2 separate regions of the Homo sapiens genome follow, and region 1 is linked to region 2. Evidence: fine-mapped expression QTL. Tissue or cell type: whole blood. Region 2 holds a variant in brackets; the other region holds the start of a gene. Each region is shown on its reference strand, or each on the opposite one. Region 1 holds the start of CHRNA2 (cholinergic receptor nicotinic alpha 2 subunit). Region 2 has its middle 47 kb from the start of LINC02577.

Evidence for each region. PIP is the estimated chance that this variant, and not a neighbour inherited with it, causes the effect. A credible set is the group of variants that fine-mapping cannot tell apart.
Region 1: it holds the start of CHRNA2, and the variant in region 2 is the best candidate, but not a certain one, in a credible set for the expression of CHRNA2 in whole blood (TOPMed, PIP 0.51).

Annotation. Positions count from the first base shown.
Region 1 is chr8:27,477,126-27,482,466 of GRCh38, forward strand. It overlaps CHRNA2 (cholinergic receptor nicotinic alpha 2 subunit), which reads right to left and starts at 2,136. Exons shown (of 7, transcript NM_000742.4): 1 at 1,699-2,136.
Region 2 is chr7:106,724,837-106,730,216 of GRCh38, forward strand. No RefSeq gene overlaps it. Among named protein-coding and RNA genes, the nearest start is that of LINC02577, 47 kb to the right of the region's middle. The variant G/A (reference allele first, on the strand shown) is at 2,354.

The DNA.
Region 1 (5,341 bases), not on the chromosome of region 2:
CTAGGGGGGCGATTTCGTATTAGCAATTCAGCCAGTACTCACCTGTGTTCCGTAGACCCTAGCACTGTGTCTGTCATTGCTAAGCCACCATCAGGACTGAGGTCTGTTGAGGACAAGTGAGGAGAGGGGACAGGCACCTCACCCCAAAGCTAGGCCCACCTGGATCCCAGATTCTAGCAGGTTCCTCTAGTGCAGATTCACTTTCTCATCCAGCCAACCAATATCATAGTTGCAAATTCCAAAGCTATCATCTGTTTCACCTTTTAACCAAGTGCATTTTTTAAAAAGGAGATTTTTTTTTCTCCATTAGTGAGAATAGGAATCCAAGCATGCTAACATTGCATCATTTAGAGATCCAAGGAGAGCCACCCGGGAACCCCCAGAAGAATGTGCAAATAAGATGCAGTGACTCTAGAGGATGTATTCCCAGCAAGATGCCTCAAACCTGCATCCCCTGTGATAAGCCCACTATATCATTTCATTTAATTTGTCACTGGAAACCAAAGGAGGAATTGTTCCAGGTGATTGACAGTAATTAGAGGGAACTTCCACCTCTGGTTAGGAAGATGTCAAAAAAAAAAGAGCTGCACACTTTGACCCTCTAAGTGGCTGGATTGGCAGATTTGGGGAAGGGGAGAGAGTGGGATGAGGTCCCTAATTGTAAAGTGGGTCTGGGTGAATGGGGTACACAGAGAAGCCTATGTAAAAGAGATTGCATACGTAAAGTGCTCGGACATCAGTGTCCCCACTGGGCTTGTGTCGCTGCTCACGTACACCAGTTCCAGGCCACCCCCACCCCACCCCCACACTCACTGCAGCATCTCTAGCCTGCCTGAATCCTGGTTCCGTGGAGGTCAAGGTGATTTGAGCTCACTTCCCTGTCCATGGTTCTACTAATTCTGTTTTCAACTTCTCACCCACCAGTCCACATTCTCCTCTTTTTACTAACATTTCCTTCTCCCAAAAGGCTGCTTCCATCCCACCTGGTTCCTTTCTGCTGTCCAGAACCTCCCCAAGCATACAGGTCTCAGCTTTTTCACAACTGGCAACATTACACTCCCAAAGAAGCCCCTCCATTAGAGAAACCAGTATGATTTCTTCTTCCAAATAAATGCACTCAAGGTGCTTAGGGGCTAGAGAGTGTAATTCTAGCTTTTATATCTGTTTTGCTCAATCACAGAAGTTTAACACTCAAGGTTGGGTGGGATCTTGAAGGTCATCTGAACAACCACACCAGCTGATGGAGGAATCCACTTCACAAATGCCAGCCTTGGAACAAGCCCAGCTGTAAAGAACTTGAAGAACCTTGGAAGGTATTTACCTTCTAAGTCAGTAAATAGCATTGCTGTCTTTTAGCCCTTTTAAAGGACATAGACAATTTACAGAATGAGTAAATAAATGAACAAAAGAATGGACAGCAGTAGTAAAGACATAGGAGCAGATACAGTGTAACAAAGCCACTATTCCTGAGACTGGGCTAGCCATCCTAGCCAGGAGGTGTTCATCGTCACCTGGCTGTGGACAGCTCCAGCAGGGACAACCAGGAGACTAAAATATTTCTAGGAGCAGGTGACATCCAGCATTCAGACATAACCCCCTCCTGAGTACCCAGAAACTGCTAGTATTTCTTTGACCCCATATCCACAAGCTCTCCACATGCATGCCGCCCTCAACATAAGCCTTGGGTACCTTTCTTACCTGTGGTTACAGAAGAAAACAGGTCATTGAAAGGATGCAGAGAACCAGCCTGGCTTGGAGATTCTGGGCAGCTGACAAAAGTCACCCCAGAAATAGAGTGGCAGGTACAGAATAGAGCTCAGTCACTTCATTTCATGGTCAAACAGAGGCTGAAGAGTGAGGGTTTAGGAGACACCCCGTCGAGCAGAAGACTTACATGAGAGGCATTTGGCTTCCCGGGGACAGCTGGGCAAGCTCTGCAGAGAGGTGGGTTTTCCTGGGGCTGTCCAGCTCTGGCAGCCAGAACGGCTTCATGCAGGTGCCACTGAGGACAGCCCAGGCAGCCCAGCACAAGCGATTCTGCAGGTGAAACCCAAGCCTGGCCCCAGGAGGGGATGAGGGCTCAGCACACAAGCACACAGGCTCACGCTGTTCTCTCTCTCTCTCACACACACACACACATACACACACACACACACACACACAGCCTCTCTGGAGGGGAAGGAGGAGGAGCCTGTGACTCTCCAGCCTATGTCCGGTGGGGACAGATGCAGCTCTGTCCAGTCACCACGATGCTCCCTTCCCTGCTCTCTGGACCCCTGGGCTCCAGGATCACTGCCTGGGGCCCCTGAGTGCACCCACAGGTTCTGGGTCCTGGGTCCTGGGTCTGTCTGTCAATACAGCTTCACTGTATGTGAATCCACTTCACAAATTCCAGCCTTGGAACAAGCCCAGCTGTAAAGAACTTGAAGAACCTTGGAATGTATTTACCTTCTAAGTCAGTAAATAGCATCGGAAAAATTGGAGTAAGGACAGAGCTGCCAGCCAGCCCACGGTTCTCTCCTTGCCCTCCTCCCCTGTGAGACCCCTCCCCCCACCACCCTAGAGGACCACCGGTCACTTGCGCGGCCACCCGGTGTGGCTGCTTCTCTGTCACCCCGTCAGCCTCCTTGCAGGTGACCTTGCCTTTGATTTTCCGGTGAAGCCTCCTTTTCTCTAGTATCAGATGAGTACTCCTGTCTCCTCCTGTGCATGGCGAATCCTGGCCCACTGTGATCTTGACATCACCCCATCTATTAACAGCCTGGGCTTTCTCAGATCCTCCCTCTCTGCCCCACTCGTTCCTTCCCTTCAGCCCCTAAAGAAGCTCATCCTCCACCCTAAAAACACTCTGCTTTCGGCCTTTCCCTCAAGCTACTTGCTAGCTCATCTCCCTTATTTTGTTAAAAGCAAAGGCCCTGGACATGACCCGGCCACAGACTGCTGAGGCTGAATTTCTAGCTCTGCTCTTGAACAGCTGCATAATCCTGGACAGGCCTCTTCAGCTTCCTATGCCTCAGTTTCCTCAGATGTAAAAAGAGGATGTGAACAATGGCTCCTGCCTCATAGGTTTACTATGAGGAGTCAATTAGCACAAATAAACACAAACACACACGTGCATTGTGTGTACACATGTGCATGCGATTGCTAGAATCATCTTTTGAGAGAATTAAAAGACATAAAATACCAAAAAACCATAAACACTCATATTTCCACTATTCATAATTAATAAATGTTAATATTTTACCATATTTACATATATATAAAGTTAGATGTATACATTTTTCATTTGGAGACTGAAGGAAGGAAGGAAGGGAAGGAGGGAAGAAATAAGAAAAAAGAAAAGAAAGGAAAGGAAAGGAAAGAAAAGAAAAGAAAATCACAGCTTGTATCCATCAGGATTCTTGGTTGCAAGCAATAAAAACCTACCAATTACTTTAAGTGGAGAATGGTTTTATTGAGGAACAACGGGTGGTTCACAGAAGCACCTAGAAATCTGGAGGGGCTGCTTGGAGAGCAGGGAGAAGAGGGAAGCCTCTGCCCCGCGGCCAGCATGGTGGGTCCTGCTGCTACAGAGCTGCATGTGAACCTGGCACCGTCATGGGTGCCGCTGTCACCGCTGTCCCTGGAAGCAGCCATCCCTGCTGCTGCCACCGCTGCCACAGTTAATTCTCCTCCAGCCCTGCTCCTTTGTGTCACTAGCTCTGCATACAAAGGTCGAAACAGATGCATCTGATTAAAGCATGTGCTCCCAAACCAGATGCCAGGAAGGCCAAGGAAGCAGGAATCTGGGGTTTTGAGCTTCTATGTGGAAGGTGGGCTCTGCCCACTTCAAGAGGGGGGACATTCCTGAAATATTTGAAAGTTGTTTCAATGCTGGAAAGCACCCCCCTCCCCGCCACACGAAATCTAGCTCTTTGGCTCCTAACATCAGTGCACACTCGACTTTCCATCATCACACTTTGAAAAAAAATGTTTACATCTAATTGTCCTAAAATTTTCACCCAGAATTTGTTTTAATCAGGTTTGGTAAGACATGCAGACACAGAAGTGACTGTCATAAAGGAAGGAGTTTATACTCACAGATCCCTAGAAACAGGAGGGGTGGCACATTCCCGCAGGGCCACACAGAGCAGCACCAGGGAGTGTCAGGAGGTGGAGGGCACAATGTGGGAAGCCTGGCCCCGAGCCTTTATGAGGTTTCCCCGGGAAAACCAGGGCAGTGCAAGGAAGCAGCTTGCGATGAGATAGTTGGAATAATCTTGGTGGGCTCTGAGCTATAGGGATGGTCTCTAATTGCCCAGTACCTAGCTCTGAGGTGATTTGTGGCAGGAGGAATACTGGCTCGGTGTGTGAGAGTTAGACAAATGGTGCTGTTGGGGATACTGAGTCAAGATTAGGCAGAGGGCTTGTACTATAACTGTAGTGCACCTGCAAAAGCTGATTGCAGGGGAGATGTAACAAAGTTGGCTGTTAGTTTGGCCGTGCATATAGTGGATGCCAAACATACAAATGTAGAATCTAGCAGAATGCAACCATTCCTCACACAAGCAAAAAGCCTCCCCCTAACCCCACCCTAACTCCACAGGGATAGAACCCCAAGTCTCACCAGTGACCATCCAGCTCCAAGTCCAGCCTCCTGCTCTAATTCCTGACACATGTGCCACCTTGAAATTCTGTTTTCTATGGAATAAATCATAACGTTCACTCAAAATACACACATAGAAAGTAATGGGGTGGGCAGAATATGAAATAAATTAGCAAAGCCAGTAAGAAAATACAGACAGGTACAGTGCTCATTGTAGTAATAGATCATGAGGTTAGAGTGGGTATGTATTGGTTTCCTCTCCAGCCATTCTCCAGAATAAGCATCTACTGTATTCCACAAAAGCCAGATTGCTGCCTTCTCAAGCATATAAGGCATTCACTACAATCAACTTGCCACCAAGTGAATAATTTGAACCTCTGGGCTCTGCCAGCACATCCAGAGACCAGGGTTTGCCACTACTGCTGGGAAGATGAGCATTCGGGCCACATTGGGAACAGCTTCTGTAATCGGAATCACTTAAGTTTACAATGAACCACTGACATTCTATGAGACCCATCTACCTTAGGTAGCATTTGGAGATCATCAAAATTACCACTTCTGCATCCTTACAGCCTTTGCTGGTGGCCCTAATCCTTGGGATTCCTCTGGAGACATTGTATTAATTGCATTTATGGTTTTGTTAGGTAGGGGGCACTACACAGCTTCCTCTTGCTTCCTCCTTCAGCAGACAGATGATGGACATGTGCCATTGATAGGTTTGGATTTGTGTTGCCACCTAAATCGCGTGTTAAATTG
Region 2 (5,380 bases):
AAGATCAACAAAATTGATAGACTGCTAGCAAGACTAACACAGAAGAAAAGAGAGAAGAATTCAATAGACACAATAAAAAAATGATAAAGGGGATATCATAACCGATCCCACAGAAAGACAAACTACCATCAGAGAATACTATAAACACCTCTACACAAATAAACTAGAAAATCTAGAAGAAATGGATATATTCCTCCAAACATACACCCTCCCAAGACTAAACCAGGAAGAAGTTGAATCTCTGAATAGACCAATAACAGGCTCTGAAATTGAGGCAATAATTAATAGCCTACCATCGAAAAAAAGTCCAGGACCAGACGGATTCATGGCCAAATTCTACCAGAGGTAAGAGGAGGAGCTGGTACCATTCCTTTTGAAACTATTCCAATCAATAGAAAAAGAGGGAATCCTCCCTAACTCATTTTATGAGGCCAGCATCATCCTGGTACCAAAGCCTGGCAGAGACACAACAAAAAAAAAGAATTTTAGAACAATATCCCTGATGAACATCGATGCAAAAATCCTCAATAAAATACTGGCAAACCGAATCCAGCAGCACATCAAAAAGCTTATCCACCATGATCAAGTGGGCTTCATCCCTGGGATGCAAGGCTAGTTCAACATACGCAAATCAATAAACATAATCCAGCATATAAACAGAACCAAAGACAAAAACCACATGATTATCTCAATAGATGCAGAAAAGGCCTTTGACAAAATTCAACAGCCCTTCATGCTAAAAACTCTCAATAAATTAGGTATTGGTGAGACGTATCTCAAAATAATAAGAGCTATTTATGACAAACCCACAGCCAATATCATACTGAATGGGCAAAAACTAGAAGCATTCCCTTTGAAAACTGGCACAAGACAGGGATGCCTTCTCTCACCACTCCTATTCAACATAGTGTTAGAAGTTCTGGCCAGGGCAATCAGGCAGGAGAAAGAAATAAAGGGTATTCAATTAGGAAAATAGGAAGTCAAATTGTCCCTGTTTGCAGATGACATGATTGTATATCTAGAAAACTCCATCATCTCAGCCCAAAATCTCCTTAGGCTGATAAGCAACTTCAGCAAAGTCTCAGGATACAAAATCAATGTGCAAAAGTCACAAGCATTCCTATACACCAATAACAGACAAACAGAGAGCCAAATCATGAGTGAACTCCCATTCACAATTGCTTCAAAGAGAATAAAATACCTAGGAATCCAATTTATAAGGGATGTGAAGGACCTCTTCAAGGAGAACTACAAACCACTACTCAACAAAATAAAAGAGGATAGAAACAAATGGAAGAACATTCCACACTCATGGACAGGAAGAATCAATATCATGAAAATGGCCATACTGCCCAAGGTAATTTACAGATTCAATGCCATCCCCATCAAGCTACCAATGACTTTCTTCACAGAATTGGAAAAAACTACTTTAAAGTTCATATGGAACCAAAAAAGAGCCCGCATTGCCAAGTCAATCCTAAACCAAAAGAACAAAGCTGGAGGCATCACGCTACCTGACTTCAAACTATACTACAAGGCTACAGTAATCAAAACAGCATGGTACTGGTACCAAAACAGAGATATAGACCAATGGAACAGAACAGAGCCCTCAGAAATAATACCACACATCTACAACCATCTGATCTTTGACAAACCTGAGAAAAACAAGAAATGGGGAAACGATTCCCTATTTAATAAATGGTGCTGGGAAAACTGGCTAGCCATACGTAGAAGGCTGATACTGGATCCATTCCTGACACCTTATACAAAAAGTAATTCAAGATGGATTAAAGGCTTAAATGTTAGACCTAAAACCATAAAAACCCTAGAAGAAAACCTAGGCAATACCATTCAGGACATAGGCATGGGCAAGGACTTCATGTCTAAAACACCAAAAGCAATGGCAACAAAAGCCAAAATTGACAAATGGGATCTAATTAAACTAAAGAGCTTCTGCACAGCAAAAGAAAATACCATCAGCGTGAACAAGCAACCTACAGAATGGGAGAAAATTTTTGCAATCTTTCCATCTGACAAAGGGCTAATATCCAGAATCTACAAAGAACTCAAACAAATTTACAAGAAAAAAACAAACAACCCCATCAAAAAGTGGGCAAAGGATATGAACAGACACTTATCAAAAGAAGACATTGAACACGCCTGTAATCCCAGCACTTTGGGAGGCCGAGGCGGGCAGATCACAAGGTCAGGAGATTGAGACCATCCTGGCTAATACAGTGAAACGCCGTCTCTACTAAAAATACAAAAAATTAGCCAGGCAAGGTGGCAGGCGCCTGTAGTCCCAGCTATTCGGAAGGCTGAGGTGGGAGAATGGCGTGAACCCCGGAGGGGC[G/A]GAGCCTGCAGTGAGCCAAGATTGCGCCACTGCACTCTAGCCTGGGAGACAGCGAGAATCCGCCACAAAAAAAAAAAAAAAAAAAAGAAAGACACTGATGCAGCCAACAGACATATGAACAAACCTGCATGTTGTGCACATGTACCCTAAAACTTAGAGTATAATAAAAAAAAATGCTCATCATCACTGGCCGTCAGAGAAATGCAAATCAAAACCACAATGAGATACCATCTCACACCAGTTAGAATGGTGATCTTTAAAAAGTCAGGAAACAACAGGTGCTGGAGAGGATGTGGAGAAATAGGAACACTTTTACACTGTTGGTGGGACTGTAAACTAGTTCAACCATTGTGGAAGACACTGTGGGAATTCCTCAAGGATCTAGAACTAGAAATACTGTTTGACTCAGCCATCCCATTACTGGGTAGATACCCAAACGATTATAAATCATGCTGCTATAAAGGCACATGCACACGTATGTTTATTGCAGCAGTATTCACAATGGCAAAGACTTGGAACCAACCCAAATGTCCATCCATGATAGACTGGATTAAGAAAATGTGGCATGTATATACCATGGAATACTATGCAGCCATAAAACATGATGAGTTCATGTCCTTTATAGGGACATGGATGAAGCTGGAAACCATCATTCTCAGCAAACTATTGCAAAGACAGAAAACCAAACACCGCATGTTCTCACTCACAGGTGGGAATTGAACAATGAGAACACCTGGACACAGCAAGGGGAACACCACACACCAGGCCTGTTGTTGGGTGGGGGGAGGGGGGAGGGATAGCATTAGGAGATATACCTAATGTAAATGATGAGTTAATGGGTGCAGCACACCAACATGGCACATGTATACATATGTAACAAACCTGCACATTGTGCATGTGTACCCTAGAACTTAAAGTATAATAAAAATATATTTAAAAAATCAATTGTGTTTCTATACATTTGCAATGAATACACTAAAAATGAAATTAAGAAAACAAAATCTGTTTACAATAGCATGAAAAAGAATAAAATACTTAGGAATGAATTTAACAAAAGAAGTACTAAACTTATACTCTGAAAAATACAAAACATTGCTGAAAGAAATTAAAGAACACCTAAATAAATGGAAAGTCACCTCATGTTCATGGATTGGAAAATTTAATATTGTTAAGATGGCAATACTCCCCAAACTGATCTACAAATTCAACACAATTCCCATCAAAATTCTGGACCAATAATCTGATCCTAAAATTTATATGAGAGCGCAAGAAACAGAAGAGCTAAAACAACCTTGAAAACAAACAACAAAGTTGGAGGATTCACGCTTCCCCATTTCAAAACTTACTACAAAATCTACAGTAATCAAGACAGTGTGGTATTGGCATAAGATAAGACATACAGATTAATAGAATGAAATTAAAAATCTATAAGTAAACTCACACTTACTGTCAATTGATTTCCAACAAGGGAAATTTTTTCCCATTGAATTGATTTCCAACAAGGGAAATCAATTCAATGGGAAAATAAAAGTCTTTCCATAAATGGTGCTGACACAATCTGAAAAAAAAGAAGTTAGATCCTACCTCACATCTGTATAAAAATCAACTCAAATAGGATCCAATAACTAAGTGTAAAAGCTAAAACTATAAACTTCTTAGAAAAACAGAGGTAAATCTTCATGACCTTGTAGTAGGCAATGATTTCTTAGCTACGACACCCAACATATAAGCAACAACAACAAAAAAGAATAGGTAAATTGGATATCATAGCATTTAAAAAAAAAACTTTCCTGCTTCAAAACACACAATTAAGAAATTAAAAAGGCAACCCATAGGATGGGAGAAAATTTCTGCAAATCATATATCTGATGAAGGACTTGTGTGTGGAATATATAAAGAACCCTTACAACTTAACAATAAAAAGACAAATAATTTTCAAAAAAGCAAAGAACCTGAATAGACATTTTTCCAAAAAAGATATATAAATGGCCAATATGCACATGAAAAAAATGATCAACTTCATTAGCCTCAGGGAAATGCAAATCAAACCTACAATGGGCTGCTATTTCATGCAGATTATGATGGTTCTAATCAAAAAGTTAGATAATAACAAGTTAGCAAAAATGCAAAGAAATTGGAACTCTCATGCACTCCTAATGGAAATGTAACATAGTACATCTTTTGGAAAACAGTCTGGCAATTTTTCAAATAATTAAATATAGTGCTACCATACAGCTCAGCAATTCCCCTCCTAGGTATATACCCAAGAGAAATAAAAACATATGTCCACATAAAACCTTGTGTGTGAATATTCATAGTAGCATTCTTAATAATAGGCAAAAGTTAGATATAACCCAAATGTCCATCAACTAATGAATGTATAAATAAAATGTGGCATAAGCATACACTTGAATATTATTCAACCACAAAAAGGAATGAAGAACTGATACATGACACAGTGTGGATGAACCTTGAAAACGTTATGTTAAGTGAAAAAAGACAGTCACAAAGGATTATATATTGTATTATTCCATTATATTTAATGTCCAGAATATGGAAATTCACAGAGAAAGAAAGTAGGTTTGTGGTTTCCTAGAGCTAGGAGCAATGGGGGAATGAGGACGGATGGCCAAGGGATTTCTCTTTGTGGTGATGAAAATGATTTAAAATTTATTGTGGTGATGGTTGCACAACTCTGTGAAAATACTAAAAACCAGTGAATTGTACGCATTAAATGGGGAAATTGTATGTTATCTGAATTATGTGTTAATAAAAACTTTTTTAAATTATTGATTTAAGACTGAGTAAAAGAAGTGGTTATGGATATCAGGTTATGGGTTTAAATAAGGTCATTGGCTGAAGTCAAAAAGTTGAGGAAATTCCCAACTAGAAACCTCAACTTCCTCACTGAAATAGAAGGCAAATCCATCTGCCAAGTAGGAGTTTATAATCAGATAATGGTACATCAGAGGTAAAGACTGCAGAGGTGGTACAGTTCCAGGTGATGACAGGTTCCAAGGTGTGTCA